Homo sapiens: one gene and its partners. The protein of the gene in region 6 purifies or fractionates together with the protein of the main gene of each other region. This does not show direct contact. Each region holds a gene or a part of one and is shown on either strand. Other genes may lie near its edges. The genes, in order: ZER1, COL1A1, MCAT, FASTKD3, FAM120A, ERAL1 and ATAD3A.

The links.
Region 1: the proteins of ERAL1 (region 6) and ZER1 purify together in Homo sapiens (co-immunoprecipitation; one large-scale study listed by IntAct). This does not show direct contact.
Region 2: the proteins of ERAL1 (region 6) and COL1A1 purify together in Homo sapiens (affinity purification with mass spectrometry; 3 studies listed by BioGRID and IntAct, with this or other methods). This does not show direct contact.
Region 3: the proteins of ERAL1 (region 6) and MCAT purify together in Homo sapiens (affinity purification with mass spectrometry; 2 studies listed by BioGRID and IntAct, with this or other methods). This does not show direct contact.
Region 4: the proteins of ERAL1 (region 6) and FASTKD3 purify together in Homo sapiens (tandem affinity purification; one large-scale study listed by IntAct). This does not show direct contact.
Region 5: the proteins of ERAL1 (region 6) and FAM120A purify together in Homo sapiens (co-immunoprecipitation; 2 studies listed by BioGRID and IntAct, with this or other methods). This does not show direct contact.
Region 7: the proteins of ERAL1 (region 6) and ATAD3A purify together in Homo sapiens (tandem affinity purification; one large-scale study listed by IntAct). This does not show direct contact.

What each region holds. Positions count from the first base shown.
Region 1 is NC_000009.12:128,761,736-128,765,772, forward strand, and holds part of ZER1 (protein zer-1 homolog), read right to left. Parts: intron 1-4,037. UniProt on the Homo sapiens protein: Serves as substrate adapter subunit in the E3 ubiquitin ligase complex ZYG11B-CUL2-Elongin BC. Acts to target substrates bearing N-terminal degrons for proteasomal degradation with the first four residues of substrates being the key recognition elements.
Region 2 is NC_000017.11:50,188,132-50,191,631, forward strand, and holds part of COL1A1 (collagen alpha-1(I) chain preproprotein), read right to left. Parts: intron 3,360-3,500; coding exon 3,252-3,359; intron 2,794-3,251; coding exon 2,686-2,793; intron 2,466-2,685; coding exon 2,412-2,465; intron 2,250-2,411; coding exon 2,196-2,249; intron 1,978-2,195; coding exon 1,870-1,977; intron 1,782-1,869; coding exon 1,728-1,781; intron 1,602-1,727; coding exon 1,548-1,601; intron 1,408-1,547; coding exon 1,246-1,407; intron 1,145-1,245; coding exon 1,037-1,144; intron 880-1,036; coding exon 772-879; intron 665-771; coding exon 611-664; intron 507-610; coding exon 399-506; intron 19-398; coding exon 1-18. UniProt on the Homo sapiens protein: Type I collagen is a member of group I collagen (fibrillar forming collagen).
Region 3 is NC_000022.11:43,140,358-43,144,996, forward strand, and holds the start of MCAT (malonyl-CoA-acyl carrier protein transacylase, mitochondrial isoform a precursor), read right to left. Parts: upstream 3,042-4,639; 5' UTR 2,992-3,041; coding exon 2,569-2,991; exon of another isoform or gene 2,535-2,568; intron 893-2,534; coding exon 805-892; intron 1-804. UniProt on the Homo sapiens protein: Catalyzes the transfer of a malonyl moiety from malonyl-CoA to the free thiol group of the phosphopantetheine arm of the mitochondrial ACP protein (NDUFAB1). This suggests the existence of the biosynthesis of fatty acids in mitochondria.
Region 4 is NC_000005.10:7,862,207-7,866,243, forward strand, and holds part of FASTKD3 (FAST kinase domain-containing protein 3, mitochondrial), read right to left. Parts: intron 3,778-4,037; coding exon 3,692-3,777; intron 792-3,691; coding exon 617-791; intron 1-616. UniProt on the Homo sapiens protein: Required for normal mitochondrial respiration. Increases steady-state levels and half-lives of a subset of mature mitochondrial mRNAs MT-ND2, MT-ND3, MT-CYTB, MT-CO2, and MT-ATP8/6.
Region 5 is NC_000009.12:93,454,552-93,458,449, forward strand, and holds part of FAM120A (constitutive coactivator of PPAR-gamma-like protein 1), read left to right. Parts: intron 1-3,898. UniProt on the Homo sapiens protein: Component of the oxidative stress-induced survival signaling. May regulate the activation of SRC family protein kinases. May act as a scaffolding protein enabling SRC family protein kinases to phosphorylate and activate PI3-kinase.
Region 6 is NC_000017.11:28,853,388-28,858,017, forward strand, and holds the start of ERAL1 (GTPase Era, mitochondrial), read left to right. Parts: upstream 1-1,628; 5' UTR 1,629-1,647; coding exon 1,648-1,930; intron 1,931-2,876; coding exon 2,877-3,004; intron 3,005-3,117; coding exon 3,118-3,195; intron 3,196-4,551; coding exon 4,552-4,598; intron 4,599-4,630. UniProt on the Homo sapiens protein: Probable GTPase that plays a role in the mitochondrial ribosomal small subunit assembly. Specifically binds the 12S mitochondrial rRNA (12S mt-rRNA) to a 33 nucleotide section delineating the 3' terminal stem-loop region.
Region 7 is NC_000001.11:1,528,943-1,532,491, reverse strand, and holds part of ATAD3A (ATPase family AAA domain-containing protein 3A), read right to left. Parts: intron 3,270-3,549; coding exon 3,161-3,269; intron 1-3,160. UniProt on the Homo sapiens protein: Essential for mitochondrial network organization, mitochondrial metabolism and cell growth at organism and cellular level. May play an important role in mitochondrial protein synthesis. May also participate in mitochondrial DNA replication.

The DNA of each region.
Region 1 (4,037 bases), on a different chromosome or scaffold from region 6:
CTGGGACTACAGGCGCCTGCGACCACGCTCGGCTAATTTTTTGTATTTTTAGTAGAGATGGGGTTTCACCATGTTAGCCAGGATGGTCTCGAACTCCTGACCTTGTGATCCGCCCGCCTCAGCCTCCCAAAATGTTGGGATTACAGGCGTGAGCCACCGCGCCCGGCTGACCCCATCTTATAGAGGAGGAAACTCAAGGTCAAACAGAGGGAGCTGTGTAAACTAGACTGGAACCTGGTCTCGTGGAATCCCTCACATCTCTTAGAGCAAGCTTGTCCAACCTGTGGTCCATGGGCTGCATGTGGCCCAGGACAGCTTTGAATGCAGCCCAACACAAATTTGTAAACTTTCTTAAAACATTATGACATTTATGGACTTTTTTTTTTTTTTAGCTCATCTGCTGTTGTTAGTGTTGGTGTATTTTACGTGTCGCCCAAGACAGTTCCTTTTCCAGTGTGGCCCAGGGAAGCTAAAAGATTGGACACCCCTGACTTAGAGGGTTCTGGAGTTCTGGGGCCCAGCATTGTCCCAGCTTCTGGGAGCCTCCCTCTGTGCCCATTTGTAAACCTTCCAGACTGCTCAGGAAATCCAGCGGGAAGCCACAGGGCACACTGGGCTTTGGAATCAGCCAGTTCTGAGTTCAACTGTGGCACCACTGTCTACTGGGGACTGTGTGTGGATGGGCTGTGGATTCAGGCAGGCATAGCTCACATTTCAGCCTTGCTGCTCACGAGGAGACAAACTTGGGCAAGTGTCTCCACCTCTCTGTGCCTCAGTCACTTTTCCTCTAAAATAGAAGCAGCACAATACCTCATCCCCAGCACGGTGTGAAGATTCCATGGAATAATATCAAAAGGGCTTAGAACGGTGTCTGGCATGTAGTCATTGCTCAATAAAGACAACCGTTATTATGTTGTTGTTATAATCATTACCTTCTCCTACCTCATCTGCCCTGGCTCCCAGCTCCGGGCCTGTGCTCCCCGGCCTGGGTCTCCCACAACAAGGCTCATTGTGTCAGCTGTCCCACTGGCAGCATGGCACCCTCGAGGGAAGGCACAAAAGCCAGGATGCCTGGGCCCCGGGCATGGCCTTCCTTTGCCTTCATTTGCTTCAAGATCTTTAAGAGCCCAGCAGCCTCTCTTGCCTGGGAAACTGGAACCAGAGGGAGCACTGCTGGCAGAGAGTCCCCACTCTTGGAAAGCAACTCTTTTCAAGCCCACCGGAATTACAGCCAGCTTTCTGGCCTACTTGGTCCCCACTGCCCCCCTACTCCAGCCAGCCTGGCCTCATCATTCACTGTCCTGGCAAAAGGCCCTCGGCACAGGTCACCTTCAGACCTTTGCCCAGTCTGTTCTCTTTCAACCAGGACCATCCAAATTCAACTAATTACTGCACTTTCTAATTTAAATACTGCCTTCTCCCCTCCCCTACCCAAATACACTCCATGTCCTTCCTCCAGGAAGTATCTCCTGGCCACTCCAGCCCACATGATCTTTGAACTCTCCTTTCACGTAGCTGATACCTATGGTCCCAGTGTCAAAGTTACTTCCTCTGGGAAGCCATGCTTAACCCACCAGGGTGTGCCTGCTGAGTCCCCCCACAGGCCCGATCTACCACAGCAATGAACACTTGGTACGATGTGGCTTTGATGATTCAGCATCCTTGATGGATGGCCAGGTCCATGAGGGCAAAACCAGGCTGTCTTGTTTGGTATCACCTCCCTGGACCTGCTCACTCAGTCCCTGCTGAGCACTGGGGGTCCTTGGTGAGCGAGCCGGACAAGGTCCTTGACCACATGGAGCGTACTGGCTCCGGAGGGAGACAGATCCACCTACAGGGCCCATAAGCGCCTGTCGCGTAACTGGGACCAGTGTCTTGCAGGAGAAGGGGCCTGGGGCTCTGGATGCCCAATCAGGGGACTTGCCCTGGACTGGGGAGTCAGAGCAGGTATCCTTAGAAGTGACATTTCAGGCCAGGTGCAGTGGCTCACACCTGTAATCCCAAAACTTTGGGAGACTGAGGTAGGTGGATCACCTGAGGTCAGGAGTTCGAGACCAGCCTGGCCAACATGGTGAAACTCCGTCTCTACTAAAAATACAAAAATAAGCTGGGCTGGTGGCGCACGCCTGTAATCCCAGCTACTCGGGAGGCTGAGGCAGGAGAATTGCTTGAACCCGGGAGGCGGAGGTTGCAGTGAGCCAAGATCACACCATTGCACTCTAGCCTGGGCAATAAGAGCAAAACTCCATCAAAAAAAAAAAAAGAAGTGACATTTCAGCTGGGACCCAAAAGATAAGTCCTAGTTAACTCTGGTGGAGGGGAGAGAAGGGGAAGGCGCTTTGGGAGGAAGCAAAGAAGTACCTAAGCTGCAAGGAGAGGGGGTGCATGGGACGTTGGCACTACGGGCCCAGGTCCATGACTATTTGCTAAATGAACAAAGGAAGCACTGAACACTCAATGTGGGGCCTGCCACAAGGTGAGGTTTCAACAAAGGCCTGTGGAAGGAATGACAAAGTACTCGCCATCAGAGGTCTGCACGAGGCCTGGGAGGTATAGTACACTCTCGCATTCTCCCTGCTTGCTGCACTCAGGACACTGCTGGGCGCCCAGTGGCTGCAAATGATGCCTCTTGGCTCGGAGGCTCTGAATGAGGGAGAGCCACTGGGGTTTTGCCTTTTCTGCAGGTCTGAGCCCAGTTACCTAGGCAGCTGCTCTGCCCTTACCATGCTCCCCAAGTGGAAGAAACACCACCACGTCAGTTGTCACGGTCACCAAAAGCCCCCAAAACATAAGCCAGGTAGATGGCGCCATCTGCTAGCCTCCCCTTAGCAGTGTTGACCTTGCCACTCAGGGCTGGAATGAGCTGGAAGAGGAAGCAGCCATCTTACATCCTGGCACAGAGACTGAAGGGCCCCGGGGCTACCATGCCCTGAGACCCATCCAGCTGCGGGCCTGGCACCTGCCAGAGGCAGCCATCTCTACCTACTCCACTCTACCTACTCCATTCCTTAGGGATTGTCATTCTCAGGGCAGTCACAGGCCATCTGGAATTCCAGCAACTGAGGACAGAGGGAGCTCTGGTTATGACCGACCACCACACTGGGAGAACCCTGTGTCTTTCTCCATCCCTTTTCTTGCATGTTCTCTAATACTAGGTCTATCATGAACATTCGACATCCTGGGGAATGAAGGAAGTGGGAGAGAAGAGAGAGAAAAACAGCACCAGCAGCAGCAGCAGCAGAAGGCACCGCCATACCACGTCCATGTTGGCTGCTTCCAGATGTGGTCCTAAGCTCCTTACAGGCTTTACTCCCTCGAGTCTCTTACTCAACCGACAAAATATTTCCTAGTACCCTGTACTTGCAACTAATTAATCATTTACATAACAATTTGTCAACTGACACCCTCCTACTGCCTGTGAGCTCTGGGAGGACAGAAGCTGTATGCTTGCTTGCATGCCTGCATCCATGCACATGTACACACACACACACACACACACACACACACACACACACGTGCGCAAGCGCGCACGCACCTGTATCCTTGGTGTCTGACTTCGGTGCCCAATTTATGCCTGGTGTTTAATAGAACAAAGGTTTGCTGTGGCTGGAATTCCCTTACTCTAGTACTGCAAGATAGAGATTATTACCCCATTTTCTGATGAAGATACTGACGCATACACAACTAAGCAGAAGCTTGCCTGAGATCACAAAACTGATGAGAGTGGGATGCAAACCTAAAGCAGACCCCCGCTTCTCACCAAATATTTGGTCTTCAGTCCATCCATCCAAACAATGGGAGGGAAAGAGAAACTGAAGTCTGGAGGTGGGAGCATGGGATCCCACCAGTGTCCTGATACCCAGAGGACAGAGAGGTTGGGGGAGCCAGAAGCTCTGAGCCTTGGAGCAGTACTCACCCTGTGAAATATTAACCTAGGAGCTGGGGGGAAAACCCAAACAAATGCCCTATTTACAGAGGCTAGACGCTTTCCAGGAGGCAGCAGATCAAGGGCCAGAGACTGGGGGTGTGAGGGGAGT
Region 2 (3,500 bases), about 21 Mb from region 6:
GGCGGGACCAGCAGGACCCTGGGGAGAGCAAGGAAAGCATGAGCTCTTGGCCAGGGAAGGCTGAGGCTGGGGCTGCAGGATGAGGCCTCCCCTCTGCTGGATCTCTCTCTCCTCAGCTGCTTCCCACTGTGGCCATCTCTCCCAACTCCCAGGGAAACCTCCCCACTGCAATCTTCACGGGAGCTGGGGCCAACTCATGGGAGAGGCGGTCCTGTCTGGGAGAGGGGACTTGGGGCTGAGCTTTAACTCAGTTTTTTGGATTAAGGCCCTGACATCTTGCAGGATCTCCTTTCCTCCCCCTGCCTGGGTGAAGTCCGACACCCATCCCCAGGCCTCTAAGGAGGCCTGAAGAGTCCCTGGCCTGACCAGGTACAGGGAACTGGAGCCCAGCTACTTACAGTCTCACCACGATCACCACTCTTGCCAGCAGGGCCAACGGGGCCAGGGGCACCAGGAGCACCAGGAGCACCAGGGGGTCCAGCGGGGCCGGTCTCACCACGGTCACCCTGGCGGGGAGAGCAGGGGAATATGGGTCAGCCCCGGGTGAAGGGCCAGGATGGGGCAGGGAAGCAGCAGACAAGGCTGTGGTCATGGAGTGTTGCCATCTTACCTTGGCGCCAGGAGAACCGTCTCGTCCAGGGGAACCTTCGGCACCAGGAGCCCCCTGCAGAGAGAGAGAGAGAGAAGTGAGAGTCAGCCGGGGAAGAGGGCTTAGGCAAGGCCACAATGGCCATGCTGAGGGTACTGGCATGGGGGCTGGGGACTGCTCACCTCACGTCCAGATTCACCAGGGGGTCCAGCCAATCCAGGGGGGCCCATGGGACCAGGGGGACCACGTTCACCACTTGCTCCAGAGGGACCTTGTTTGCCAGGTTCACCCTAAGGGAGAAGAAAGAGTCAGGCCAGAGATAGGGTCTGGGAGGACCCTTGAGTCCGCTGGAGTCATCTCTACCAAATCTGTTCTCCTTGGCTCCGCCCCACTCCAAGTCCTGTGATGGTTTTTCTCAGGGCCCCCCAAGGTGAGGGGGGCACTTACAGAGGGGCCAGGAAGACCAGGGAAGCCTCTCTCTCCTCTCTGACCAGGCAGGCCGACCACACCACGCTGTCCAGCAATACCTTGAGGCCCGGGAGTACCAGGAGCACCCTTTGGGAGGCAAACAGGGGTGAGGTGCCAGAGAGCAGCACAGGGACCCCTCCCCAGCTCTGCACACCTCCGGAGCTGCAGAGATCTGAGCTGGCACTTACAGCAGGACCATCAGCACCAGGGGATCCTTTCTCGCCAGCAGGGCCAGGGGGACCAGGGGGACCAACTTCACCAGGACGTCCAGCAGGGCCAGTCTCACCACGGGGACCTTTGCCGCCTTCTTTGCCAGCAGGACCAGGAGGGCCAGGGGGTCCAGCATTTCCCTGGATGAGGATAGGAGGGGCTGTCAGACTCCAGGGGGCTCTGGTGCATCATTGGGTCCTCAGTCAGCCCCACCATCCTTCTGGCAGCCCCCACCCAGCACCCCCAACCTAGAGCAGTGGACTCTGCTGCAGAGACTTACAGAGGGGCCAGGAGGACCGACTCGGCCAGCAGCACCAGGGAAACCAGTAGCACCCTGGAAGGAGAGAACATAGGAACAGTCAGAGGGAGAACAGCCAACTCATCCGACCCAGCTGCCCTCACCTGCCACCGCTGCCTGGGGAGAGGGGAGAGGCTCAACAGAGAGGCGGGTGATACTCACAGGGGGACCAGCGCTGCCGCGAGCACCTTTGGCTCCAGGAGCACCAACATTACCCTGTAGGAGAGCACAGAGGCATCAAGCCTGGACCCGTCCTGGGTCCCAGCCCACCAGCCTCGTGGGCACAGAGGGCCAAGCCACTCACAATGGGGCCAGGGGGTCCAGCGGGTCCGGCAGGGCCAGGGGGACCAGCATCGCCTTTAGCACCAGCATCACCAGGTTCGCCTTTAGCACCAGGTTGGCCGTCAGCACCCTGGGGGAGGAAGCAGGGCGGTGAATGGAGGGAAGGAGGCAGGAGTTTCCACTACCTGGGGGAGGAGCAGTAATGGAGGCAGGAAGATGCTTGGGTGGGAAACAATCCCGTCTCCACCCTTCTCCCCTGAGGATGGCTGACGCCTTTGTCCTCATTCCGTCCCTCGAGGTCCCAGGTCCCAGTCGGTGATGAAAAATGATGGGGGTCTTGGTACTCACAGGGGGGCCAGCAAAGCCAGCAGGGCCGGGGGGACCAGGCTCACCACGGTCTCCCTAGAAGAAAAGGAGTCAGATTGGAGAGATGCGCTGACAGGAGGGAAGGCGGGGATGCGGTGAGGGGAGAGGCAAGGGGTGAAGGCACAGACAGGGCCAGGGGTGCTGTGTGAAGGGAGGGAAGGGCCAAGTATGGGGTCTTAACAGGTCTTCTGTACTTACGGGGGCACCACGAGCTCCAGTGGGACCAGCAGGGCCGCTGGGACCACTTTCACCCTGAGAGCAAGGGACAAGAGGCTCAGGGTCAGGGCCTCCCCTGAATACTCCTAGTAGATGACCCCAGGAGAGCCTCCCCTCCTTCTGGTCCCTCCAGGTTCCCAGGTTGACAGCTCAGTTTGGCAGGACCTGCTCTCCCAACGCAACCCCACGGAACCGTGCCCAGGCCTGCTGAGGAGGCTATGTGTTAGGGCAGAAGGTGGGGAGGCGGCCACCTCACCTTGTCACCAGGGGCACCAGCAGGGCCAGGAGGACCAATGGGGCCAGTCAGACCACGGACGCCATCTTTGCCAGGAGAGCCATCAGCACCTTTGGGACCAGCATCACCCTAAAGACATGGATAAGCTTGAGATTTCCAGTGTGGGGCAAGGAGGTGACCTATAGTGTTCTGCTTGTGTCTGGGTTTCCTGAGAGGCCCTCTGCAGCTCTGCCCTGCCTCCACCTGGGCCAAGGACTCAAAGATTCTTTCAGGAAAAAGGGTGCCTGCCTGGAGACTCAGGTGGAACTGAGGTTAAGAGGCCCCTGACTTGTGTAGCGGGATGAATAAGGGAGCCTCCACCAAGGAGATGCCCCCACCTCTCATCACCATGGTAACCCATGGGGATAGATGGGCCTGGACCACAGGGAGAGGATTCATCAGCAAAAAGGCCAGAGGGGAAAGGGGAAGAAGGGAGGATTAGCGAGAAGAGGGACAGATCCCAGAGAGAAGGAGAGATGCTGAGAGATTCAAAGCAGGCAGAGATGGGAGCCATGTAGGGCTCAGGGGAGGGGGAAGGTTGAACTTACTCTGTCACCCTTAGGCCCTGGAAGACCAGCTGCACCACGTTCACCAGGCATTCCCTGAAGGCCAGGGGCGCCCTGGCTACCGGGAGCTCCAGGGGCACCAGCATCACCCTATGTGACAACCAAGAAGACTGGAGTGAGGCCTGGGGCCCCAAGAGTGGGTCACAGCCCTAAGCCCCGCTTGGTATCTCCCAGGCTTGTTTCCAAGGCCAACGACAAGCCTTGAGAAAAGATGAAAAGACTCACAGCCCA
Region 3 (4,639 bases), on a different chromosome or scaffold from region 6:
GTGTGTGACAGGGTGTCACTCTGTCACCCAGGCTGGAATGCAGTGGCACGATCACAGCTCACTGCAGCTTTGACCTCCTGGGTTCAGGTAATCCTCCCACCTCATCCTCCCAAGTACTCGAGCTGGGACTACAGGCGCACACCAACATGCCTGGCTAATTTTTGTATTTTCGGTAGAGATGGGGTTTTCACCATGTTGCCCAGGGTGGTCTAAAACTCCTGGGCTCAAACATCTATCTGCCTCTGCCTCCCAAAGTGCTGGCATTACAGGTGTGAATCACTGCACCCAACGTAATTTTTGTTTTTTGTTGGGGGCAGAGATGAAGGTCTCACTATGTGGCCCAAGATGGTCTGGAACTCCTGGCCTCAAGTGGTCCTCCTGCCTTGGCCTCCCAAAGCACTGGGATTACAGACGTAAGCCATGGTTCCTGGCCAGCAAAAATCTTAAGAAGTAAAACTGATATGGCTCCAGATCCAATATTTATTTACTCTTTAATTCAACGAATATCTACTGAACACATACTCTCGTGTTGCAGGTGCTGCAGGTATGAGTGCACAGGATAGCGGGTTAGACAGTTCAGCAAGCAGATTTCATGAGATTACAAAAATAAGGGAAATCCCTAATGAATCCTTCAGTCTTGAAAAGGAATCACAGCAAAGCCCTGTCCTCATGTGCCAATGTCACCCCTGTCCATGTGCTCCCTTCCCATCACCTGAGTGGGTCCAGTATCATTTTTGGCAGTGTCCCTTACCCCTAATGAGCCCAAGACCACAGCCTTGCATAAAACCAAACTCCTTCCTGTACCTTCAGCAAATTCCATGGCTCCGGCAAACACTAGGGCTGCAAACTCTCCCACACTGAATCCAGCAGCAGCAACACAGTTCTCAATCACCTGTGGGGACAGATGCAGAACGTGAGCCCTCACTCTCCTGGGGATCCCAGTTCCAGGGCTCTGTACCTGAGAGCTGGCGGGGTGTTCAGCATCTCAGTGAGCCAGGTTCTACGAACTTGGTGCACCAGCTGGAAGAGGACACACAAAAGTGACCTTGACAATCATTGAGTCCTGCCCCTTTATTTAGGAGGAGCTTTCCTGGTTAGTTACAGTCCATCAACTCCGTCCATGGTCACACTGACGCCAACCCAGGGCTCTGGATTCCCTTGCCATGGCCCTGCAGCAGGCTCTCAGGCCATATCGTTGTGCACAAGTTAAGAGCATGACTTTTTTTTTTTTGAGGCGGAGTTTTGCTCTTGTTGCCCAGGCTGGAGTGCAATGGCGTGATCTCGGCTCACTGCAACGTCCGCCTCCCGGGTTCAAGCAATTCTCCTGCCTCAGCCTCCCGAGTTGCTGGGATTACAGGTGTCCACCACCACACTTGGCTAATTTTTGTATTTTTAGTAGAGACGGGGTTTCACCATGTTGGCCAGGCTGGTTTTGAACTCCTGACCTCGTGATGCACCCACCTCAGCCTCCTGAAGTGCTGGATTATAGGCATTATAGGCGTGAGCCACCTCGCCCGGCCAAGAGCATTTTTATCTCATCTGTGAAATGAGGGAAGAACAGGGCCTACCCCAAAGGGCGGATGAGAGAATTATGTGAATATAATGTCTATACAGTGCTTAGCACAGACCCAGACTAGGGTAAGCAGTGAATGAATATTATGATGACGATTCAACAGGACCACTTAACTAATTCTTTTAATATCCCTGAGTCTGCATTCCTCAACCATCAAATAACAGTATTAACCTCACAAGGTGGTGTGAAGGTGAAATAGGGTAAAGGATCTCAAGTGCTAGCTTAACATTTACCGTCTTATTAAATATTAATAGCAATCAATCCACCACCTTCAAGTGAAGTGACATTCTCAACTCATCTCAATGTTCCTTCATTTAGGCCAGTGCAGTGGCTCATACCTGTAATCCTAGCACTTTGGGAGGCCGAGGTGGGTGAACCTGGGAGGATTTAAGTAAAGAATAAAAAAATTAGCCGGGCGTGGTGGTGTGCACCTGTGATCCCAGCTACTGCGGAGGCTGAGGCAGGAGAACTGCTTGAACCTGGGAGGCAGAGGTTGCAGTGAGCCAAGACTGCGCCATTGCACTCCAGCCTGGGTGACAGAGCAAGACTCTGTCTCAAAAAACAAAACAAAACGGGCCGGGCACGGTGGCTCATGCCTGTAATCCCAGCACTTTGGGAGGCCGAGGCGGGCAGATCACGAGGTCAGGAGATCAAGACCATCCTGACTAACACGATGAAACCCCGTCTCTACTAAAAATACAAAAAATTAGCCGGGCATGGTGGCGGGCGCCTGTAGTCCCAGCTACTTGGGAGGCTGAGGCAGGAGAATGGCGTGAACTCGGGAGGCGGAGCCGAGATCGCGCCACTGCACTCTAGCCTGGGCGACAGAGCGAGACTCCGTCTCAAAAAAAAAAACAAAAACAAACAAAAAAAAAAACTCGATCGAATGAGTAAGACGTGGGAGCCCCCGGAATGGCAGGCGGAAGCCTCTGGCAGGGCCAAGAGCTCAGGCAGAGCTCACCTTCCCCCTCCTGTCACGGGGCCTCGGGCCTCACCGAGGGCTGCAGGTGATGTAGTTTCTCGACAGCGGCCAGCGATGCCACGAAGATCGCGGGCTGACAGTGCACGGTGCGGTCCAGGGTCTCCTGCGGCCCGTGCAGGCTCAGTTCCAGCAGGTCGTAGCCCAGCACGCGGCGGGCGGCGGCGTAGAGTTCGCGGACGCGCGGGTAGTTGAGCAGACCGCGGCCCATGCCCACCACCTGGCTGCCCTGGCCCGGGAAGAGCAGCACGGAGCACTGGCCCGGCATTCGCCGCTCCGTCGCCGCCCAGGGCGCCTCCTCCTCCGCCCCGGTCGCATCTCGCAGCAGCTCCGCTACACCCTGGGCGCCCGGCGGAGGCACCGGGAAGCTCGAGGCGCCGCGGCGGTAGCTGGCGCCCAAGCCCCTGACCCACGCTACCCGTGCGACCCGGACGCTCATGGTCGGACACCTGCCCGCGCGCGTTACCGTGGCGACCGAGGCCCGACTGCGGCGGCGCGGCGCAGCGTGGTCCCTGACGCATTTCCTGCCGGGGCTTCCGGGGCACCGGGAGCGGGAAGAAAGGTTCCGCAGACGCTGGTTCCGCCCCGGCTCTGAGGCCCTTCGGGCTGCGTTCTGGGGTCCTGGAGGGACTCATGCGTTTACTTAAACAGCCATAGCCGTTGAACGGAACACGATGCCACACCACAGTGGGTCCTCAACAGATATTTATGGAATAAATAACGCAACGCAATGTAGTATTTACGCTTTCTACCTGGCACATGAAGAGCACTTGAAACTCTTCCACATTGATGGTTTTTGTTGTTGTCGTTGTTGTTGTTTGTTGTTGTTTTTTGAGACGGAGTCTTGCTCTGTCGCCCAGGCTGGAGTGCAGTGGCGTGTTCTTTGCTCACTGCAACCGCCGCCTCCCAGGTTCAAGCGATTCTCCTGCTTCAGCTTCCCGAGTAGCTGGGATTAACAGGCGCCCGCCACCATGCCTGACTAATTTTTGTATTTTTAGTAGGGACGGGTTCACCATGTTGGCCACGCTGGTGTCGAACTCCTGACCTCAGGTGATCCACCCGCCTCGGCCTCCCAAAGTGCTGGGATTACAGGCGTGAGCCACCGCGCCCGGCCAGCAACCACATTTCTTGCATATGATCCTCCCAACCACAGGAGTTGGCATGGCCGACCATCCGTTGCCAGTTCCCAACTATACAACAGCTCTCTTTTATAATGTTTTCTTACAAACCACACAGTGCTTGGCACATAATAAGCATCCAATAGATCTTTATGCTATTGAACAAAGCCTTGAATGTGTTTCAGATATTAGCTTATTTAATTCCTCACAGCAACGCTGTGATGGATAGCTGCTCAGAGATTGAGTGACAGGTGGTTAGTGACAGAATGGAGGTTGGAAATTGGGGTTATCTAATGTTAACCTAAAAGCAACTCAAGAGACACAGGCTCGGCCAGGCGCAGTGGCTCATGCCTGTAATCCCAGTACTTTGGGAGGCTGAGGCAGATGGATCACTTGAGGTCAGGAGTTCAAGACCAGCCTGGCCAACATGGAGAAACCCCGTCTCTACTAAAAATACAAAAATTAGCTGGGCGTGGTGGTGGGCGCTTATAGTTCCAGCTACTCGGGAGGCTGAGGCAGGAGAATCCCCTAAGCCCGGGCAGCAGAGGTTGCAGTGAGCCGAGATCCCACCACTGCACTCCAGCCTGGGTGACAGAGCAAGACTCCGTTTCAAAAAAAAAAAAAAGGCTGGGTGCGGTGGCTCATGCCTGTAATCGCAGCACTTTGGGAGGCCGAGGCGGGCAGATCACCTGGGGTCAGGAGTTCAAGACTAGCCTGGTCAACATGGTGAAACCCCCTCACTACAAAAAATACAAAAATTAGCTGGGCGTGGCGGCACATGCCTGTAATCATAGCTACCTGGGAGTCGGAGGCAGGAGAATTGCTTGAACCCAGGAGGCAGAGGTTGCAGTGAGCCCAGACTGCGCCATTGCACTCCAGCCTGGGCAACAAGAATGAAACTCCATCTCCAGAAAAAAACAAAAAACAAAAAAAATATATATATATACACACACACACACACACAGAGGA
Region 4 (4,037 bases), on a different chromosome or scaffold from region 6:
GAAGGCTTTCTTCTGCTCATCAAGTTAGAAGAACTGTAAGGACGGAGGACTTGGAGTCTCTTGTCAGTGCTGTCCAGGAGAAATTTCTGTGATGTGGAAATCTTTATAATGGTGCTGTCCAATTTGGCAGCCATGAGCCACATGTGGCTACTGAGCACTTACAATGTGACTGAGGAATTGAATTTTCTTAAACTTTTAATAATTTAAATTTAAATAGCCACATGGTCTAGTGGCTACTATATTTGGACAGTACAAGCCTAGGTTATAGTAGTAGCTAACAATTAGTGAGCATTTCCTACGTTCCAGGTACTATTTTATTTAGACCTTAAGTAAGTCTTTGAGGTCAATATTACTATCATTTTACAGAGGAAGAAGCAAGCAGAAAAAGGTTAAATATTCTGCCCAGGATATTCTGCTACTACGTGGCTAATATTTGAGACTTAAACCCAGACAGTCTTGACTCAACGGCTCTGCTGCTAACCCCAACTTGCCTTCAGGGAAGGGACCATTCCATTTTGCATTTCCAGAGAACTTCTATTGCTTCTAAGTCCCATATATCTCCAAAATCGAACAGGATGCTTAGGTTTAAAACAACAAAACTCCTTATACTACTTACCTATTGTATAACAATAGGGTGTCAACACTTTTGGAGCAAAATATAATCTTGCTCCTAAAAGGTTAGTCAGCCCAATCTTCACATATCTATAAAGCTGAGAATCCACAGGGGTCTCCAGGGAACAGCATGGGGTAAGAAATGACTTCACTTGATATTTAGGAAGGAGTTTTGGACCCTAAAAAATCATAAGTGCAAATGTGAGAAAGAAAAATAAGATATAACAACAGAGAATAAATTGAAGGTTACCTAGGTAGAAAAGTTTGATATAACATTACTTTATAGGCATGATACTTTTCCAGGAATTGGGACAGGCATCTCTCTCAAAATGATAATGCAAACTTCTCTTCTTACAGTGCAAGTCTAATAGTTCAAAATGTCTTTTATATGTGTTTTTACAGTAGTCACTGGTTACCATAAACAGAAAGAAAAGTAAAGAAGGAAGGTAAAAAGGAGTGAGGAGAGAGTGAGAAGAAACATAATAATGCTAACAGTTCAAGAAACATTTTTAGAACTGAGAATTGTCCCAAGGGTCTTAAGTACACACAACTAAAGTTTTCAACACAGGTTTAATTTCTCTAATCTGAAAATCCAAAATCCAAAATGCTCCAAAATCCGAAACCTTTTAAGCACAGACAGGCTGCTTAAAGAAAATGCTCATGAAGCATTCTGGATTTCAAATTTTTGAATTAGGGATGCTGAACTGGTAAATATAATGAGAATATTTTAAAATATGAAAAAATCTGAAAGCTGAAACACTTCTGGTCCTGAGCATTTTGGATAAGGGATACTCAATCTGTAATGGAAAATGTGATATAAATGACATTCCAGTTTAGGAAGAAAAGGATAGCAATATAATAAACGATGCTGGAGAAAATGGTTATTTATTTGGAAAATAACTAAATTAAACTTCTGTCATCCATGACAGATGCTAATAAATTCCAGGTGTACAACATGCTGACTATAGTTAATAAGAATGATTGCGTGCTTGAAAATGGCTGAGAGTACTTTTTTACCTTTTTTTTTGTTTGTTTTTGTTTTTGTTTCTGAGACAGAGTTTCACTCTTGTTGCCCAGGCTGGAGTACAATGACGCGACCTCGGCTCACTGCAACCTCCGCCTCCTGGGTTGAGCGATTCTCCTAACTCAGAGTCCAGAGTAGCTGGGACTACAGGCGTGTGCCATCATGCCCGGCTAATTTTTTGTATTTTTAGTAGAGACAGGGTTTCACCATGTTAGCAAGGCTGGTCTCGAACTCCTGACCTCAGGTGATCCACCCGCCTTGGCCTCCAAAAGTGCTGCGATTACAGGCATGAGCCACTGCGCACGGCAAGAGTACATTTTAAATATTCTTACCACAAAATAAAATGATAGATATGGAGGTAATACACATGTTAATTGGTTTGATTTAGCCATTCTACAATGTATACATATTTCAAAACAACATGAACATAATAAGTATATACAATTTTTGTTAATTAGAATACATAAATAAAAATTCAATTTTACTTTTAGATCAAAGATCTAAATAAAATTTAAAAGATATTATTTTTAAAAATGTAAAATATTCATGCTCTTGAGATAGGAACCTCGGAAGTCATAAAAGACAGATTCGACTACAGAACATTTAAAAATACATCATAAGTAATATTAAAAAGTAATAAAAGAGTACAAATCGGGAAAATATGTACAACATTCATAATAGTTAATATCTGTTTTACAATGAGTCCTTAAAGACAAACCATCCAACAGAAATAAATTAAGGTGTAGAAAGGCAATTCAAAAGAAATGTAAATGGCCAACACATATTTGAAAATATGCTAAACTTCATTAATGCTCATTAAAATGCAACTTAAATATATGATATGATATCCTCTTTCATGTAGTTGAGTAACACAAATTAAAGAGACTACTAACACACTGCAATAGAAGTGGAGGAGACATGGCCACCTTCATTCATTGCTGGGGAAATGTGACATCTGTAACTATTAGGGAAAAAAAATCTGCCAGTATCCATCAAAAATTAATCCACTAATCACATTTTTGGGAATCTAGTTTATATATGAAAAAAACCAAAAAGGCTCTAGTATGACAGGATTTGCAAGAATGTTTATTATAGCATTCCCGATAGAGACAAAAGTTGCAAAAACCTCCAAGTGCATCAATAGTAGAATAAACACCATGAAATATCATGCCTTTCTAAAAAGAATGCATGTGATCTGTATGCACTGGCCTCGAGGGATGGCCATGATATACTGCGCATAAAAGCAAATTGTACTTTGATTAGTGAGTCTCATTCCTTGAAAAGAGAAAAAAAATAGACAGTGTTTATGTATCTGTATACATTTGGGCGTAGAAACTGCTTTTAATACTGTTCCTTTAGAAATGGTAAGAGATCGGGGTTAACTATTATTTATCTTTATATAACTTAGTACTGTCTAAGCTGTTTTAAAAAAGGGGTATTTTTCCATTCTTATTACCTTATTTCAAAAATCAGATACTCTAAACTATGATTCAGAGTCAAGTAGAGAGAAGCAGAGAGAGAATGTCATAGTCTGGTGTGCTATTTCTGATTCTACATAAGGAATGTGATAGGTAATAGGATAAATCTTTATAGGTCTTTATGGGAAGAGCGAACTCTAGATAAACTAAACTCTATTAGATAAAAGTGAAATTTCTGGCTTGGCTTAAAAATATACTGTACTTGCAAATAATTTAGGTATTTGTTCAGTCCAGACATTCACACTTTGATAACAAACAGCTATGGGAAACCTAGTAGTAAACCTAGTACTAAAACCCTGTAAAACCTTCAGAGAGAATGGAGAAATACTGTAACTCACATGCCTGCAGCACTTGATAAAACCTCCTAAGAAATCTTAAACAGCAGGAAATTGTTCCTTCAAGAACAAGAACACAAAAATGGGGTCCATTTATCAAAGAAAAGCCTATCTGGTGGCAACTGACTCCAAGTAAATGAAATTCTGCTTTTTCAGGTTATTGAGACAGATCAGAAGTAAAGGAACTTAAAAGGAAACTGCACCCATGGGGAAATAAAGCCACATATAGTTCATGCTTTTACCTTATAGAAAGGGCATTCCAGGACTGAGGCTAAGAAAAGTTGGGTCAGTTGTGCCCGACTCAATGTGTCCAAATGAGATTCTTTACCTGAAACAGAAAGCATCCCAGTCATAGTTACGTCTGAATTGAGGTATGTATGAGAGAACATCATGAACATTCAACATCAATTTACACACTCCAGACAGAAGTATTCTATTTTTAAATGACACTATGAAATGAACTTGTTAGAATTAATTATGCCCTCCTCTTGCCACCAATGAAATTGACTTCCAAGAACCCAAGCTCCTAGCTACAGAATACAATTAAAAGAGATAAAATATGTTCACAGAATTAGTGGAAATTTCCTT
Region 5 (3,898 bases), on a different chromosome or scaffold from region 6:
GAGGATGAAGAGGAGAGTCTGCCAGAGGCAGGAGCACCATTAATAGCAAGAAGTGACAAGAGAGATTTAAAAAGCTATAAAAAGCAAACATAATTCTGGGGCTATTTTAAGAAAAGGAAAACAACCCTATGTACTTCCTTGGTCCCTGAGGGTAGTACAATGTTTATTCTATAAGGATGATTTTGAGTCATAAAAATTAATATTCAGCATTCTCTGTTTAAGGGATTGAAACAGTGTATACCATTTAATAAAAGATACCCATAAAGTGGTTAAAACGTTTAAAACCATGATATCACTACATGCCTATTAGAATGGCTAAAAGAGAAAAAAATATGAGCAATACCAAGTGCTAGCAAGAATGCTGAGCAACTGGATCCTTACACATTGCTTGTGGGAATGCAGAATGGCACCACCACTCCAGAAAACAGTGGCACTTTCTTATAAAGTTAAACATACATTTATCATACGATCCAGCAATTCCACTCCTGGGTATTTTCCTAATGAAGACTTTTGTTTGTGCAAAAACTGGTACTCAAATGTCCATAGCAGCTTAATTCATAATAGCCCAAACGTGGAAACAAAGTATCCTTTAATAAGTGAATGGTTAAACTACAGTATAGCCATACTATGGAATACTACTTAGCAATAATAAGGAAGGAATTGCTGGTGTAGGTAACAACTTGCATGAATATTTAATTAAGGTTTTATACTGAGTGAAAGAAGCCAGGTTCAAAAGGGATGATTATAAAACTATAGTGATAGGGACCAATTCAGTGGTGCTGAGAGTAGAGGAGGGGAAGGATGTACACATAAAGGGGACAGCAGGAGAGATCTTTGTGGAGTGATGGAACTGTTCTGTATTCTGATGGTGGTGATGCTACCATACATTAAAATCAGAACTATTCATCCAAAGTAAATGTGTTAATTTTATCATATGATAATTTTTTTAAGATTAAGTAAAAACCACTGGCAAAGGAATTGACATGAACAATTCAGTATATATAATGTTGAGTAAATGAGACATTTATAAAAACTTTAAGCATCTTATTGGTGCTTTCTAGTGTTTTGTAAATTGGCAGAGGGGCATAATTTCCTGTTACCTTTGCTTAGAGAAATCTTTTTTTTTTTTGAGATGGAGTCTCACTCTGTCTCTCAGGCTGGAGTGCAGTGGCGCGATCTCGGCTCACTGCAACCTCCACCTCCTGGGTTCAAGCGATTCTCCTACCTCAGCCTCCCTAGTAGCTGGGATTATAGGCGCCTGCCATCATGCCTGGCTAATCTTTGTATTTTTAGTAGAGGCGGGGTTTCACCATCTTGGCCAGGCTGGTCTTGAGCTCCTGACCTCGTGATCCACCTGCCTCGGCCTCCCAAAGTGCTGGGATTACGGGCGTGAGCCACTGCGCCTGGCCAGGAGAAATCTTTTTTGATTTAGAGATTATTTCTTTTACAGAGTAGTAATTGTATTTTTTTGTTCAGTAGTAGTAATTGTATTTCTTTAACCATTAGAAGTTGGTCTACATGGAAAGACAGCCAGAACAATGAAAATAATAATACTTTGGCCTATGTATTGACTAGTTTTGTGTAGGTCCTAAAATAGCCTAATTTGAACTTGGCTTTAGCTAGTTACTTGGACAGTGTTTCTTCTTGTGTGCCTTGGGTCATTATAACCTTTGAAACTTCAGTGAATGACTTATGTTTATTTTAAAATCTTAGTGGCATGAAGTCACTGGAGCTTTCATAAATGTTTCTGCTATATGACTTGTGGTATCAGTGTAAGGGTTTATAATAAAGTCCTTCAGATCTTCTGAATTTGCTTCCATTGGAATTTTGTTAAATAATGCTCTTACATAAAATGGCGTTCATGCTATAAGTCAGTGGAAGAATGTGAGGTTAGACTATGGTTTAGAATTTTCATGGTTAGCATAATTACATGTTTGTATTTAGAGATGATGGTCTCCCTTCATGTATACTTGATGGGGGAAGAGAATGAACTGGTATCAGACCAGGTGCTTGCTAGATCCTTTCTCACATATTCCATCTCATTTAATCCTCAGAGTGCTTTGTTACCCCATTTTTCATGTGTAAAAACAGGATCTAGTGATTAAGTGACATCTGGGGACAAGTCATTAGTAACCTCAAGACGGAAGTGGAGTGCTAAAGTCAAAGTTCAGCTTCTTTGTGTAAGAATACTTTGTGGGTGTGCCTACCTACAATTCTCACCCCCAGGTCAATTACGATAGCTAACTGCTTCAGCTATGTTTTCTAGTTAGGATAGGAACAGTCATGTTGCTATTCAGAAGAAAAATGTCCATCAGTAGATCCTGGACACTGACAGTACATCTTATTCTTAAGGACCTTTAATTGACTGGAAGATTTTTAAGGTTCAAAACTGACCATATTATACCTCAAACTAGTCACTGTATATATTTCTCTGTTGTACTACTTTTGTCACTAGTTTAATTCACATAGCATAATGTCTTCAAGCTTCTTTCATGTTGTAGATTGTGTCAGAATTTCCTTAACTTTTAAGGCTAAGTAATACTCCACTGTGTATATGTACCACATTTTGTTTATCCATTCATCCACTGGTGGATACTTGGGTTGCTTCCACTTTTTGACTATTGGGAATAATGAATAATGCTTCTATGAGCATAGTATACAAAGAGCTGTTCGAGTTCCTGCTTTCAGTTCTTTTGGGTATATACTCAGAAGTAGGATTGCTGGGTCATATGGTAATTCTGTTTTTCTTTTTAAGGAATGGCCATATATTTTCCACAGTGGCTGTGTAGGCCATATATTTTATGTCATAAGTTATATAATATATATTATTATAATATAGTTCCATTTTTTCACATTAATGTGATTGCACTATACGTTATTCAGCAGTTTGCTTTTTTATTTGTAAGAAATCTTTCCATGTCTATACTTAGAGCTCTAAGTCTTTTCAGTCCCTAAATAGTATTCCATAATTTATCCAACCCCGACAGATGGTATACACATGATATATACACACAGTAGAGCTAAAGGTATGCACATTTTAAAAGCCACGTAGGACCATAGAGTCAACATTACCAGAACTTCAGACTTTGCAAGAAAGCCAGAAACCCAGATTTTTAAAAAAATTATTCCATTTTAAAAATGCCAAGCGAAGGAAAACTTGGTTCTAAGTTAGCTTCAGCTCTTGTGCCACCAATTTGTTATTTGAGCACTGATCTTTATCAACAATTATCATGGTCATCTAAATCTCTTCCTTTTTTTTTTTTTTACTTTAAAATTAAACCTATCAAAAACCACTCTGTCTTTTCCTGTCTGCCTCCTTGAACCTTTTTCAATGATCAAAATGCTTCCATTTCCTGGGGTTACTGCAATATGATGTTTCCTTAAATGCCACAATCCTCTTGGCCACTTCCATAGTATATTCTTCATTATATACTTCTCAATATTACATATTTTGAGGTGAGTGCTAACCCACATGTTTATTTGACATCTCACCATTTCCAAGGCACAGCCTCACTGTCCTCAAACACTTCAGCACCTGGTTTTACATTCTTATATATTATTTATACTGTGTCCCATCAACACAGACACTGACTCTTCACCTCTCTCATCTGGCATCCTGATTCTGCAACTGGAGTGAATTTCTAATTGCACTTTAGATACTCCAGAGCTTGGACCGTATAATTAGTGAGAAAAGTGACCCCACCTTTAACACTTCTGAACGCTGTGTCCCTGTCACTCCTTGCCGCTCCCACCGTCTGTCCCCTGCTTGCCTTCCGCCATTTCTCTTTTCCCATTCTGTTGGCTTCCTTTTTAGCTGTAACTAGCTTGAACTTCATGATCATTCACTTCAGAGTTACACCCTCTACCACCATAGAGTCATGCTTGGTATTCCAGCATC
Region 6 (4,630 bases):
ATGGGAGAAGAGAAATTGAGGATAGCCAGAATATACAGTGGTGTCTTCCCAGGGAATTTAGATACCATAATTTCCACCCTCCCATCCTATGGATACCAAAATCTGCTGATTCTCTTGTAGTAAGAGATGACTTTAAGTCATCTTAAAGTCTCTAGATTACTTATAATATCTAATACAATGTAAGTGCTATATAAATAGTTGTTATACTGTATTGTGTTGTATTTTTGTTGCTATTGTTATTTTAGAGATGGGGTCCCTGAAATCCCGTGATAGAGATTTCTGTCTGTTTTGTTCACTGATGTATTCCCAGCACAGGACAGAGCTTGCTAGTGGATGCTTTATACATCTTCCTCCATAGTCAGGCATGTTAGCATGTGCCTGTAGTCCTAGCTACTCAAGAGGGCTGAAACTGGAAGATCGCTTGAACCCAAGAGTTTCAGGCTCCAGTGAGCTATGATCATGCCACTGCACTCCAGCCTGGGTGACAGAATGAGCACTGACTCTAAGAACCTTCCTTCCTCAACACCCCCTCTACCAAAGTTTATCTCTGTTTCTTTTTTTTTTTTTTTTTTTTGAGATGGAGTCTCGCTCTATCGCCCAGGCTGGAGTGCAGTGGTGCAATCTCAGCTCACTGCAAGCTCCGCCTCCCAGGTTCACGCCATTCTCCTGCCTCAGCCTCCTGAGTAGCTGGGACTACAGGCGCCCGCCACCACGCCCGGCTAATTTTTTGTATTTTTAGTAGAGACCGGGTTTCACCGTATTAGCCAGGATGGTCTCGATCTCCTGACCTCGTGATCCGCCCGCCTCGGCCTCCCAAAGTGCTGGGATTACAGGCGTGAGCCACCGCGCCCAGCTCTCTGTTTCAAGTGTTTGATTTAGAGGCTACAAAGGATGAAGAGGGCTCAAGGCCTCAAACAGAGCAAGGTAAATGAGTTTCTCCGGCTGCTAGAGCGGTCTAGGAGACCTTAGGTGGCTAAGCCACTTCTTCCTCCTTTGCAAACCCTCTGGTTGTTCTCCATAAAGGAATGACCTCAGATAGTAGACAGTAGCCAAGGCTTACAGGAGGGAAATCCAGACCTGCTCTTCATCCCAAACACCGACCCAAGGACCACTCCTTCCAGGAACCTAGCCTAAAGCAAAGGTGCAGACAGCCCGGGGCCACCGCTGACCTCTAGGGCAAGCCAAATTAAGGCTGGGAGAGGATCCTGCAGGCCAAAGGATGGAAAGGACTAGGAACAAACAACAACAAAACCCTTACGGGGACAGGCGGAACAGTGCCCCCTCCCACTCCCACAACCATTCCTCCCTCGATGGGAGGACGATTTCTGCTATTTGGCCTCATGGGAAATGTAGTCTTTTAGGAGACATGGCCAGAAGGGCCGTTTACAAAACTTTGGCAGAAGAAAAAAATACGTTGTGTATGGGAGTCCAAAACTACCGTCATGCTTGCACAGACTCTAAATACACATTTTCCCCTTTCCTTAGCCTCCACCAGTCTCCAGAGCAATTCCTCCTCCCGCCCACATCCCATGTGTCTCGGCTTTCAATTTGGGCAGACCTACCTCTCTCCTACTCGCTGGTTCGTCAGCCGCTCTGTTCAATCGTAGGAGCGCTCCTGGTCGGTTCCCGCAGTGCCTTGCGGCTGTAATGGCTGCCCCCAGCTGGCGCGGGGCTAGGCTTGTTCAATCGGTGTTAAGAGTCTGGCAGGTGGGCCCTCATGTCGCGAGGGAGCGGGTGATCCCTTTTTCCTCACTCTTAGGCTTCCAACGGAGGTGCGTGTCCTGCGTCGCGGGGTCCGCTTTCTCTGGTCCCCGCTTGGCCTCGGCTTCTCGCAGTAATGGCCAGGGCTCTGCCCTGGACCACTTCCTCGGATTCTCTCAGCCCGACAGTTCGGTGACTCCTTGCGTCCCCGCGGTGTCCATGAACAGAGGTAAAGCGCCCTGATAGGTTTGCTCGGAACTGTCATGTTTTTAGTATTGAAAGGTTTCTGGGGATACTGTCTTTGATTCTATTTTATAGAAAACAATTTTGAGGCCCTGACAGGGAGGAGCAGTGAAAAATCTCTCAGGAGAGAAATAACAGTTTGAGTGGGAGAAGGAAACGATCTGGTCACAACCAGAGACGCTCACTAAAGAGCATGAGATTGAAGGGCCACAAAGTGGAACTATGGCTCTGCACCCCGACATGGGAAGCAAATTTGATCCAGTAAATGCATGTTGGGCCTCATCTTCTTGTTAAGACACAGTTACACCTGGAAAACAGCACACTTTATTCTTCAAACAGTGTCCGGTATTGGAGACTGGACACAAACTGGTCATTGCAAAATGGTGTCATAAGAAGATAATATAAAAAGACTGGGCCCTCTCCCTTCTTGACCCTTAGCCCTTCCTCCCGTCCCTCCTTCAGGAAAAAAAAAAAAAAAGACTGGGAAAGCTTGCAGGGCCTTCATAGCACCCTTAGTAGGGTGAGAGAATGAGAGCTGAGGAAATATCTGGCTTTGTGTAATCCAGCTTGCTTTCATGTACATTCACTTCTCAGGCACAGCTATACATTATAATTACATGCAGTAATTATTAAGTGCCAGGTATTGTGCTGAGTTGTTTTACACAATTGCTAGTCATCAAAAAAATTATAAGCTGGTAAGTAGGTACTGTTAATATCAACTCACTTTTACATATGAGAAAACTAAAGGGCTCAGGGAGTTACTTTATAAATTAATGTAAATTAAGGGCCAAAGTCTCAAAGTCAGCTCTAGGTGACTTCAACCTGGTGCACTAATTTTGTACCCCTGCTCCCTTTGTGGGTGGGCAGGAACAAGCACTTGACAGGAAATCCAGATTCCACTGTGTCTCATGCTTCTTCCCACTTGCACATAGATGAGCAGGATGTCCTCTTGGTCCATCACCCTGATATGCCTGAGAATTCCCGGGTCCTACGAGTGGTCCTCCTGGGAGCCCCGAATGCAGGGAAGTCAACACTCTCCAACCAGCTACTGGGCCGAAAGGTATGCTACACCCTTGACCATCCTACCCTTTACATCTTTTACTTCTTGCCATGCCTTCAAGGATGGTCTTGGAGGGATCTGGGACCTCACTGAGACTCCTTTGTTCCTGGCAGGTGTTCCCTGTTTCCAGGAAGGTGCATACTACTCGCTGCCAAGCTCTGGGGGTCATCACAGAGAAGGAGACCCAGGTGGTGGGTACCTACAAAGGGAGTCCTTGAAACAGGACAGAGGGTGAAGCTAAGAGGGTCTCCCTTACCATCAGCCTTGAAGAAAATGATGGTCACATTCATTTATGTGAGGAAAGGGGGTTTCTTTTCTTTTTCTTTTTTTTTTTTTTTGAGATGGAGTCTCACTCTGTCTCCCAGGCTGGAGTGCAGTGACGCGATCTTGGCTCACTGCAAGCTCCACCTCCCAGGTTGACGCCATTCTCCTGCCTCAGCCTCCTGAGTAGCTGGGACTACAGGCGCCTGCCACCACACCCAGCTAATTTTTTGTATTTTTAGTAGAGATGGGGTCTCACTGTGTTAGCCAGGATGGTCTCGATCTCCTGACCGCGTGATCCGCCTGCCTCAGCATCCCAAAGTGCTGGGATTACAGGTGTGAGCCACTGCGCCTGGCCAGGAAAGGGGGTTTCCTCTTCCTTTAGGCATGGTACAGTTCTGTCTCTACCTTGCCCTCCCCTGACATCTAGTCAGAAAGATTTCATTCTCTCGCTCTCTTTTTTTTTTTTTTTGAGATGGAGTTTCACTCTTGTTGCCCAGGCTGGAGTTCAATGGCATGATCTCAGCTCACTACAACCTCTGCCTCCCGGGTTTAAGCAGTTCTCCTGCCTCAGCCTCCCGAGTAGCTGGGACTACAGGCATGCGCCACCACGCCCGGCTACTTTTGTATTTTTAGTAGAGATGGGGTTTCACCATGTTGGCCAGGCTAGTCTCAAACTCCTGACCTCAGGTGATCCGCCTGCCTTGGCCTCCCAAAGTGCTGGGATTACAGGCATGAGCCACCACGCCCAGCCGATTTCATTCTCTGTTTACTGCTTCCTAATCTTCCTTATATTCACAGTCATCATCTTTCTCCCAGATCCCATCAAAGCAGAATGGTAGAAACCTAAGGTCAGCCTGGGCGCAGTGGCTCACGTCTGTAATCCCAGCACTTTGGGAGGCCAAAGCAGGCGGATCACTTGAGATCAGGAGTTCAAGACCAGCCTGGCCAACATGGTGAAACCCTGTCTCTACTAAAAAAATACAAAAATTAGCCGGGTGTGGTGGTGCACGCCTGTAATCCCAGCTACTCAGGAGGTTGAGGCAGGAGAATTGCTTGAACCCGGGAGGCAGAGGTTGCAGTGAGCTGAGATTGTGCCACTGCACTCCAGCCTGGATGACAGAGTGAGACTCCGTCTCAGAAAAAAACAAAAAACAAACCTAAAGTCAATAATAGTTTGACTGAGAAGGGAGGGCAGGCTCCTGACATCACAGGTAGCCTCTCTCTGACTTCCCAGTCATAATCTTTTCTCCTGGGGTCTGGGTATCTCACTTTCCTGATTTTAGATTCTACTTGACACACCTGGCATTATCAGTCCTGGTAAACAGAAGAGGTAATGGTGGTGGAATTGGGGTGGATTGGCGG
Region 7 (3,549 bases), on a different chromosome or scaffold from region 6:
TCCCAGGCCCAGGAAGTCTCTGTGCTACTCTTGCAACTTTTCTGGGAACCTAAAATCTTCAAACTATAAAAGTTGAAAGACAAGACCTGGACCTGATGTCTTCACATGTGAATTCACAAAACATTAAGAAGAATCAGTATCACTCCTCAAACTCTTGGACAAATTGAAGAACATTTCCTCACTCATCCTAAGAGGCCAGCATTACCCTCATATCAAAGCCAGACAAAGACACCACAAGAAAAATGACATGCCAATATCCCTGATAAGCATCGTTGGAAAAGTCCTCAACAAAATGCCAGCAAAACCAATTCAGGAGTATAATAAAAAAATTATACACCCTGACCAAGCAGGATTTATTCCTGGAATGCAAGGATAGTTCAACGTACAAAAATCAATCAATGTTCCACATAAAAAATGTTCAACATACAAAAATCAATCAATATTAGCCGAGTGGAGGAAGGAAACTACATGACCCTCTCATCTGATGCAGGAAAAGCATTCGACCAAATTCAAAACCCTTTTATGAGAAAAGAATTCAAGATGCCGTGCATGGTGGCTCACACCTGTAATCCCAGCACTTTGGGAGGACAAAGGGGGCAGATCACCTGAACTCAAGGAGATCCACTGCCTCAGCCTCCCAAAGTGCTGTGGTTACAGGTGTGAGCCACCGTGCCCAGCCCAAATTATTATTTTATTTTTTATTTTTTTATTTTTGAGACAGAGTCTTGCTCTGTCGCCCAGGCTGGAGTGCAGTGGTGCGATCTCGGCTCACTGCAAGCTCTGCCTCCCGGGTTCATGCCATTCTCCTGCCTCAGCCTCCCAAGTAGCTGGGACTACAGGCACCCGCCACCACATCTGGCTAATTTTTTTTTTGTATTTTTTATTAGAGATGGGGTTCCACCGTGTTAGCCAGGATGGTCTTGATTTCCTGACTTCATGATCCGCCCATCTCGGCCTCCCAAAGTGCTGGGATTACAGGCATGAGCCACCGCGCCCGTCCAGCCCCAGTTATTATTATTTTTAGTTTTCGTTTTCGTTTTTTGGGATGGAGTCTCACTGTGTTGCCAGGCTGGAGTGCAGTGGTGCAATCTCGGCTCTTTGCAACCTCCGCCTCCCGGGTTCAAGTGATTCTCCTGCCTCATTCTCCCAAGTAGCTGGGATTACAGGCATGCGCCACCACACCCAGCTAATTTTTGTATTTTTAGTAGAGATGGGGTTTCACCATTTGGCCAGATGGTCTCCATCTCTTGACCTCGTGATCTGCCCGCCTTGGCCTCCCAAAGTGCTAGGATTACAGGTGTGAGCCACTGCACCTGGCCTATTACTATTTTTTTAAGATGGAGTCTCACGCTATTGCTCAGGCTGGAGGGCAGTGGCACCATCTCAGCTCACCGCATCCTCCGCCTCCTGGATTCAAGAGATTCTCCTGGCTCAGCCTCCTGAGTAGCTGGGACTACAGGCATACACCACAAATGTGCCGGGGTAATTTTTGTATTTTTAGTGGAGGTGAGATTGGCCTTGTTGGCCAGGCTGCTCTCAAACTCCTGACCTCAGGTGTATGATATTCTCACTTCAGCCTCCCAACGTGCTGGGATTACAGGAGTGAGCCACCGCACTCGTTCCAAATTATTCTTAGTTTTTTTTTTTTTTTTTTTTTTTTTTTGAGACGGAGTCTCGCTCTGTCGCCCAGGCTGGAGTGCAGTGGCGGGATCTCGGCTCACTGCAAGCTCCGCCTCCCGGGTTCATGCCATTCTCCTGCCTCAGCCTCCCAAGTAGCTGGGACTACAGGCGCCCGCCACTACGCCCGGCTAATTTTTTGTATTTTTAGTAGAGACGGGGTTTCACCGTTTTAGCCGGGATGGTCTCGATCTCCTGACCTCGTGATCCGCCCGCCTCGGCCTCCCAAAGTGCTGGGATTACAGGCGTGAGCCACCGCGCCCGGCCATTATTCTTAGTTTTTAAGACAGGGTCTTGCTCTGTAATCCAGGCTGGAGTGCAGTGGCAATCACAGCTCACTGCAGCCTCCACCTCCTGGACTCAAGTGATCCTCCCACCTCAGCCTCCCAAGCAGCTGGCATTACAGGCATGTGCCACCAGGTCCAGCTAATTTTTTCATTTTTTGTAGAGATGGGGTCTTGCCTTGCTTTCCAGGCTGGTCCTAAACCCCTGGCTTCAAATAATCTAACTTGGCCTCCCCAAATGCTGGGAATACAAGCGTCAGCCACCACCATACCCGGCCTCTGCTTTCTTAGTTGTGGAAACAGACCTGGTTCCAAGTGGGGATGGCCTGGAACAGAGACCTCAGCTGACCCACAAGGACGGGGTTTGAGATCTGGGGCTCTTTGTCACAGTGGCATAACCCAGCCTGTACTGACTAATACAGCCCCCTGTGAACCCCGGCTCCAACATTCAAATCAAGGTACTCGGCTGCTTCATTAAGCTGTCACACGTTCATTCAAAAGCACTGCTAGATTGAGGAACCAGGTTGTTACACAGACTCTGCGGACCCCAGAGGTGGTGATGCCTGTGCGTGGCCAGGGTGCCTTCTGCCCCACCAACCTGGTTTTGCTTTTCCAGCAACCCCCAAAGACCAAAGCTTTCTGGATGGCCACGCCCACACTCCTGTGAGTCCTGGCTCCTCAGCCCTGGAGCAGCCACGGAGCTGCAGGAGGGGTGTCCCCGAAGAACAACTGGCTGTGGGACAACCAGAGGCCACTCCCACCCATGTGTCAAGCAGGACCAAGCCCACAGACTTGGTCCAGAAAACACAATGTCCCTCCACCCCGAACCCCCAACTCACATGGGGCCTGTCCTAACGACCATTTACACAGGGAGGTGCCTATTGGCCAAGGTGAGAGTCAGAAGCCTCCAGCCCCACCTGGCAAAGCTCGGGCTACGGCGATGCCAGACTGGCCTCCAGAGAGCCCCGGGTGACTGTCAGCCACCGACATGGCTCCACCCTCCTGAGGGCACGAGCAGGTGCGCGATGCCTCGTGGAGTGGCCTGACTGGGGCAGGGGGCCCTGTGTCACCTCTGTGCACTGAAAACCCCTCAACAGAAGCTCCCGCGTGACACCGGTGCTGGGACAGGCCTGGCGCAACTGAGCATCTCCACAGCAGCTGGGGTCCCGTCTGGGTGGACGTGCCGGAGCCTGACTCACCTGCCAGGACACGGCCAGCTGAGCGATCTCCCGGCCCGACATGCCCTCCGTCAGCCGAGCGACCTCCGAGCACTTCCTCCCGTAGTCAAACTGGGCCAGCTTCAGGCGCCTGGGGAAGGAGTTCCCAAGTGGGCCGGCCAAGGCAGCAGCTCCCACAACACGAGGTGGAGGCCGGAAGACAGGCAGCGAGGCCGACACCCACGCCAAACATCCTCTTTGGAGGGGCTCTCTACTTCTGACAGCCCAGCTCCACATCCTCCCTGCTGCAGGCCAGGCCCGGACTGAGCAGGGAGTGGCTGCAGGGCCTGGAGATGGCCCCAACCACTCCTCACACCAGCCCTGCCCACAGCTGCTCACTCAGCACCCGCAGGGCAGGTGGCCTTTATGCT